2 linked regions of the Homo sapiens genome follow. The protein of the gene in region 2 purifies or fractionates together with the protein of the main gene of each other region. This does not show direct contact. Each region holds a gene or a part of one and is shown on either strand. Other genes may lie near its edges. The genes, in order: FAR1 and STK33.

What was found.
Region 1: the proteins of STK33 (region 2) and FAR1 purify together in Homo sapiens (affinity purification with mass spectrometry; one large-scale study listed by BioGRID and IntAct). This does not show direct contact.

What each region holds. Positions count from the first base shown.
Region 1 is NC_000011.10:13,674,911-13,678,736, reverse strand, and holds part of FAR1 (fatty acyl-CoA reductase 1), read right to left. Parts: intron 1-3,826. UniProt on the Homo sapiens protein: Catalyzes the reduction of saturated and unsaturated C16 or C18 fatty acyl-CoA to fatty alcohols. It plays an essential role in the production of ether lipids/plasmalogens which synthesis requires fatty alcohols.
Region 2 is NC_000011.10:8,391,097-8,395,281, forward strand, and holds the end of STK33 (serine/threonine-protein kinase 33), read right to left. Parts: intron 1,615-4,185; coding exon 1,414-1,614; 3' UTR 774-1,413; downstream 1-773. UniProt on the Homo sapiens protein: Serine/threonine protein kinase required for spermatid differentiation and male fertility. Promotes sperm flagella assembly during spermatogenesis by mediating phosphorylation of fibrous sheath proteins AKAP3 and AKAP4.

The sequences.
Region 1 (3,826 bases), 5.3 Mb from region 2:
AAACAAAAAAAAGACCCACTAAATTCTATCTAAGCCCTGCTCTTCATAAATGTCCCAACACAGCTAGGGAAATAATGCTCATGAGAAGCTCAAGGATTACTAAACCAGCCTTCAAAAGTAATGATTTTCCAAGAAAGGGCCAAGCCTCCTGATGGACTATAAATGATTTAGAAAGCATGACCTTCGTGGCCATGCCTGTAACCCCAGCACTTTGGGAGGCCGAGGCGGGTGGATCACAAGGTCAGGAGATCGAGACCGTCCTGGCTAACACGGTGAAACCCCGTCTCTACTAAAAATACAAAAAATTAGCTGGGCATGGTGGCAGGCATCTGTAGTCCCAGCTACTCAGGAGGCTGAGGCAGGAGAATGGCATGAACCCAGGAGGCGGAGCTTGCAGTGAGCGGAGATCGCACCACTGCACTCCCTCCTGGGCGACACAGCGAGACTCAGTCTCAAAAAAAAAGAAAACATGACCTTCCTTTAATCCATAAAGCTACTTATGAATAAACTATTAAGCTAGTTACCAAGAGTTGCAAAAATGAAGACTTTACTAGAATGTACCAAAAACTTCAATTTGTATTCCACTAGTATATCCAGTTGCTGCAACTGGCAATGCTGCAAGCTCCTACCACATATGCATACTCAAAACGTAGAAGTCCGTAACTTTCAAGAGGGGCACTTGCCATCAGTGAAACTGTGTTGTCTTTAGTTGGTCTTCGTTTTCAATTGTCATTATTCTTGCCTTTTAATTAAATTACCATTAGGTTTGGCTCATCGTTATCAATTTAGTTTTTGGTTATTTTATTATAACTGTAGAGAATATATTGATACAATTCCATCACTAGGATTTGAGGCCTGCAGTTTTCTAATTAGTCTAGACTTTATGACAAGCATATTTTTTGTGATTCAATTAGGAACCATCCATATAGCTCTTCCCAAAAAATGCTTATACCTTGACAAGTGTTATTATTCCATTAGAAAGTAGAAATTATTGAGCTAAAGAATGACTCAGCCAAAAGGCTAGGACTAAAAAAGCTTGACAGGCACTGTTCTAAGGGTCCTCACTCTGGCTATGATGTCGCTAATGTACGGGCAAGTCTTAGCCCCAGCCAGCCTTTCCACATGAACCAAATGTGGCAAAAGAACTCAGAATCGGGATCAGTCATGTAAGCAGTAACTTCTTTGAACCTGGATGTCAATGATCCTTCCAGTGTCTAGTTTTGAGTGGGGAAAAAACAGCTTTTAGGAATGTATTTAAATGACTAAATCCCATAACAAACTCTCTTCTCAAAAATCTTTTCCTAGTTTATTTTTAAAACTTTGCCAAGTTCATAGACACAGCTTGCAACTAAATGCTGTTAGGCAAAGATCATCCTAGAAAGGTATAAAAAAGCATGAGGAAAATGTTTTAAGAACTGTGGATTCTTAATATCTGTTTCCAACTGTGGAATGGAATTAAGCTCCTAAAACACGCCTACCCTAATAAATCTTGTAACTATGGGTTATTATGTTAAAGATGGAAGGAGTATATGATGGCAAAGTAAAAACATTATGGTATAACATTTCAGGGAATTCTTAGCCAATTTACCAATAATCTAGTTACCATGCTAAAGTTAATATACTTCCTTCTCCAAATACTGAGATCCAGAATGAAAAGACAAACAAAATAAATAAGCACAATAGACTTACCAAAAATCAGGTAATGAGAAACAACGCTGTTGGGATTGCCATAACCAACAGACCTTAGGCAAGTCAACCTCTCTGATCACTCTTTAAATTTATTGAAGGAGAGGCCAGATCACTGATTGTTAAAATCTCTTCTGGCTTTCACAGTCTGTATTTTTACTACTATGTATTGGAATAAGTTGTTTCCTACTAGTAGATTAGGTACTTGAAAAATTATTAACTCCAACAGGTCACAAGGGTATCACTTTAAAGCAATTCACCTAATATTCACTGAACTTCGAACAGTCTGTGCACAGCTCTGTGGGGTCAAATGTCCCATTACCAGCTAATTCACCTGTTCCTATCTCCTGAGAATTCTGCTTATGCTCATAATCATTATCATAATTACATTTTAATTACAATCCACAAGTTTTTAAAACCACCTATTTCTAAGAAACTCATTTAGGGCCATTCCTCAAACTAAGTGAACTATGAGCACTTGTATCTCAGGGCTCCACTGAGAATCAATCCTTTGTCAGCCAAAAACAGTTTCTAAGCTCCTGCATTACTTCTGGTTGTTTCAACACAGATGTGAACCTCAAAATACTTTAGCAGATCCTTTCCTCCACAGATCTTAACTGCCTAAGGACACAGTAAGTCAAAGTTTTTACTTCTGGGGGAAAAAAAGGTATTTATGCATTTATTCATTCATATGTCATATATTCTACTTCCTGTTAATCCAGGATGGACAGGAGCCATAAATAAAGTACCACATGCTTATTCCAAAATCTTTAGTGAAATAATTCCTATTTATTAAACTGGCTACAGCTTGTTTTTCCCCAAGAATTCAATTAAGAATGTCTAATTTTTTAATTAGGCATTTGCAATAATAAGCTTTATCATTTTATCACTCTTAATAATTAAAAACACTTGTTTGTAAAAGGCAAGCAGAACACACAGAAAGATAATTGAGTTGAATTTTAGCAGTATGCTTTCTGCCTACACATTAAAGAATAAATTATTAAGACAGAATCCACAGACCCCCCAAGGATATTTGAACGTACATTTTTCTGATGAGATAGCACAACACTTTGAGGAGATGCTCAGAGAAGTTCATGACCTTTGACAAGCAATTTCTGCATTAGGGAATATACTTTAAGATTTTATTCTCAGAATACTTCAAAATAAGCTATAATGGTAACAATTCCCTAAATTCAAGGATTTCTCATGAATTATGCCAACATTTCTGGAAAAAATTTCATGTAAGACAAGAATGATCTAAACTAGATATTTCAAAATAATCTTAAAATTGTCAAATAGTTAACATTTAAGTTAAACACACACACACAACTGCACACCAAAGCTGATGGCACAAACCCACAAACATTCTAACAAGAATGGATCCATTAATACATGTGGTATTAAGATATTTAGAAGGCTTTTTAACAGAACGTGCCAAAAAATTAACCACGAACAGTGATATATTCACAAAGTAGTGTGTCCTAATTTCTGCTACAGCAACCGGCTTTGTTCAAGTTCTGATATAACATCTACAGTATGCCAATTACATGTTGTAGTAGTCTAAAAGATAAAGATAGAGAGATACAGATTTAGATATAACTTATTCTATAGCGCCAAAATTAGATTTCCTAACCGCACGCTTTATCCATGTGATTACCCTCACCTTATCCCTGAATGTTCTTTCTCTCTATCGCCACTTGTTTAAGTTCTACTTTCATTCTAAAATAATGTCAGTTCCCACTTAAGAGTCTCTACCACCAATTTTGGCACATGATCCAGTGTTGCTACATTCTGTTTCACATATGTACAGTCTCTTCAATTATATTATCCCTGCCCTACAGTAGCTTACTATATCTAATTTCTCGTGCCCAGAACAGTATAATGCTCAAGTCTCAAAATATATTTATATGAACAAATTTGCACCTCACTTGGATTAACATGTCTATTATTATACTTATCACACTGCATGGTAACAACTGGTTAAAAAAAAAAAAAAAGTCTAGGGATTTGCTTCAAAATAAAGAAGGAAGTGGATGGAGGTATGGATGAAGCAAGACTGACCACAAGTTAGTAACTCTTAAAGTTGGTGATGTGTGTATTATTGCTGTCAATTTTCCATAATACAAAGTTTAGAAGCTTG
Region 2 (4,185 bases):
GGCTCCACTTAGCTAATGAAGCCAGAGTTCTCATCAGGTGAACAGAACACGCCCTTTAAAGACTGGCTTACTAAACCCTGAGAGAAAGCTTAAAGCTCAGGATATGGTTTATGGGCTTATGATACGACTGGAACTAGACATCAAGAAGGGAGAAAGATCTTGAAGCAGCTATGTTAATGACAGTTTAAAATAAAATACAGACAATTTCCACTAGATATGCCTTGGCCAGCAGGTTCCCCCAAGGAAAGCACACTGAAGGTACTAAGAAAATACTGGCAGAACCACGTGGGGCAACACAGGCCAGTGCTATCTTTGACTCATTCGGAATCACAATAGTGTCTTCTAAACTAACTGCAAGAAGCACACGTACTATTTTTAGTTACCAAGTGGATTTAAATGCAACTAGTATATGCTCAGCTGGCCAGATGTGGGCCATTTTGGAGACCTGACAGTTCCATGGGGGGTTGGAATGGAACTAGGTTATGACTTTATGAAGGTAAAAGCAATTGCAAATTCTTTCTTTAGAATTTGCTTTGGAAGCAAAGGAAAGTAGCTATTCAACCAGTTTGACTTCAACTGGCAAAATTAGTTACCCAGGTGGAAAGGAGATGTCTATAAAGCTAAGAGAAATGAGGTATGGTCCCCTGTTTCTTGCTTCATGATCTTCCCCAAAGATGTGTGCCTACCATTGCAGCAGTAGAACAAACTTATAATTTGCATAAAGGCTTAGAGGACCTTATTATATTCACCTCTTGTTAACATAAAAATTAATGTGCTGAGTAACATCTGTTTTTTATTGATTTAATCAATACATTGGGAATTTAGCAGCAAGTTAATGGCAAGCAGTTACAAAATCTCCTATTTTTCTACATTTAAAATAAGCTGTCTTAAACAATCTATAGCAACCTAAAATCTCACGAACACATGTGAATGACTGAAGCACTTCTGCTGTAATACGTATGGCAAGTTTATTAGTAATTTTCTAACAAAGTCTTCTAGTGCAAAGTGCACATAATTATTTGGCACCTCCATTACTATATTTGGCCTCTTGTTTTCCCCTATAAATAGCTGTGCCTAAACATAAGAATTTGAAGTAAAAATGAGCAAGTGTGCCCACAGCCTTAAATTGAAGGTATCTGCCCCCCTAAAAAACCTTCGTGTACATCTTGAGTTGATTTCCACTGCAGCCCACTGCCAAGCCTACTGGTGGCTGTCCTTTAATGCCATGTGCAGCTTATGCTGCTTTGGAGATAAGCAGCTTCAATTTTAAGCTGGTGCAAACACATGGCGGGGCTCTGTGGAGCTAAAAGGCTACAAGCTCAGCATAGGGCTGTCTTCTTCCCCTCCTACCCCCTCATCAAAGTGCTAACAAGAGCAGCTTTGTTTTTGTACTGTCCAACACTGGAGGGAACCTTAGAGTTTCTTTTTGGTTCTGGACAGGGCGCCGGATTTAGCAGGGTACTTGGTTGCTGTTCCTTGGCTTGGAGTCACAGGGGTTTTCTCCATTTCTCCCTTGATTTCAGCTGGAAGGAGTTTGCTAGATGTGAAACTTGAACTGCACATATCAAAGTTGTCCTTACTGGTTGCAGGAAATTGCTTTTCATAAGCAGTAGACTGCAAATAAAAGGTCTTGATTAATTTTCAGACACAAAGCAATGCACATCAATTCAAAGATGCAAGGAACTACAAAGTTGTCCAGGATTTGCAAGTTGGAGCCCTCTCTAGATATAGGGTCCAAACTAGTCATATTGTAAAATTATTATTAAATGCCAAAAGATCCTTTTGCACCTTTAAGAAAACTGAATTGTTTCATGTTTGGTGTGGAGCAAACTCTACAGGCTCAATTTCGAAACCTCTGTCGTCCAAAATGTAAGTAAATGTCTGGTAACATTTGTGCAGGGAAGTCCGCTTAGACATAATTGTACTCACTTCATCTTTACAGATTTCTACACAAGCTCTGACATTTGTATGGATACCCTGATAAGTACAATATAATTATTCTTTCTAATCTGTGTATGAAGTGCTACATAAGGCCCACACTCACATCCCCACTATCTTCCCACATTAATTCCAGAGACTGGCTTCTAATCCCAGTCACACTACTCAGGCAGGCCTGTAGACCTCTTTGAGCCTCTCTATTCCTTGCCCTTAAGTGGAAGCAAATAATATTTGCACATTTGCCACAAGAGCTTACCATAAGAATGAAGAGAAAGGGTGGCCATGAAAGTACTATGTGAGCTTTAAAGTAGAAAACAAGCAGATGGAGTTTTAACAGGCAATTGTATTTTCTCAGGTCGCCTCATTCCACAGTAAAGGAAGAAGTGGTCTTGAATCCTGCTGTCATGAGGGAAGCAGGGTCTGTTTTGACGTTAGGCCCATTTTTAAAGTGATCACTTTTAATTAAGTGAAGCTGGAGCATAGAGTTCTAAAAGAGTAGAGATTGTCTCAGGAGACCCACAAAGCAGCACAGGGGCCCAGCCACTGGGGTAGAGATAGGGAAGCTCTGGTTTACAGAGAATGATCGAGGAAAGAGCTCACAGGTTTAATACTCTGGTTACCTGAAAGTCACAGCACACTTGGGTTAAAAATCAGGTTAACAATTTTCAAAGAGTGTGATAAGATGGTGTGTAACACAAAATAAATGCAGTGTTTCTTTGATCATTCAGGTTCTTGTGATGTAATGACCACGTTTAATATTCAGTAGTAGCACTTAATATATGTTTGCCTAGTGAATCCATGACTTTCCAGGGCTGCAATAAAACTCTGGGTCCTGTAAGACTTTTGGCACCTATATTTCAAGAAAGAAAATCCACCTGATGTTTGCTTGCTGAAGAAAGCCTTTAAAGTGTGCCTCTTCAGAACATCACTCGTGTCTGATTTTATAACCAGTATATGCTAATTCTTGAGCAGGTAACACTTAAAAATCATTTTGTACCTTAAAATTTTAATTTCTATAAAATTTGAAATGTAAAAAGGTCATTTTCTTTAGTTCTTTTCCCCCCTAAGCAAACTTCTGGGTTATTTCTGTGTGTTCTTTTAAGAGGTAGAAAATATTTAAAATTCTTTAGTATTCCCTCACATAGGTTGTATTTTTATCGAAAACTCCTTATGTTCAGTGATAAGGTGAGGATACAACACCCCTGATGTTAGAGCATCTGGCTGAGAACAAGTTGCTTTGTTTAGTACAGTGCTGGTCTCTAAGATATACACCCTATCTTTAAAATTTCAATTCATAAAATTTAATTACCTTTACATACAAATGCTATTAAAAGGTGAATCTAAGTGTAACCTTCTGTCTTTTGACATTTCTACTTGGATTTTGAGTTATCATCCAAGTTGTTGAGGAAGTAGTTTTCAACATGTCCACTACAACTAATATTCTATCGAGCAGGAATAAAGATTCATTTTCCTTTAATGTGCTTATATTCATATCTGGCTTAATGGTTCCATTCTTCTTTACTGCTTCATTTGTTAATGTAATTGAGTCATTATAGTAGTTTCAGGAGTTGCAGTCACCAGGAAGAAATACTCAGAAACAGTCTCTGTGAACAGAATTATTGATGTAGAATATTTTTCTTTTTCCCAAAAACGCTACAGATGCTGGTATTTTCTTCTTGGATACAATATCTTGAGATCATTATTAAAGTCTTCTGGCAAAGTGGAAGGAAAAAGAAAACTAAACAATGTTTAGTTGCTTTGGTGTAGAAATATGATATTTCTGTTTTATTTTGTAGTAAGATAAGAAAATGATTTTCCTCAGCCAAATTTTTTTGTAATTTTAGTTATTTATTTCTTAAATAGATAGTACATCCCCATGATTAAATATTCACAATGTTCAAAATCTCCTCCTTACCCCCTAGTTAACTGAGCTCTGCCCCCAAAGACAACCAATATTGTCAATTTATAGTGTACAATTTCAGAGAGATTTTATGCATCTTCAAGCAAATATTAGGTGGAACCAAATGGATGTGGTTGTCATTCCACTGTCATTTCCATTGGTTGCAGGTCAAAAACAGTCTAATAATGGCAATTTCCTATGGTTCAATCTAATTCATTGATGCGGTTTGGCTGTGTCCCCACCCAAGTCTTATCTTGAATTGTAGCTCCCATAATTCCGTGTTGTGGGAGGGACCCAGTGGGAGGTAATTGAATCACAGGGGCAGGTTTTTCCTGTGCTGTTCTCAT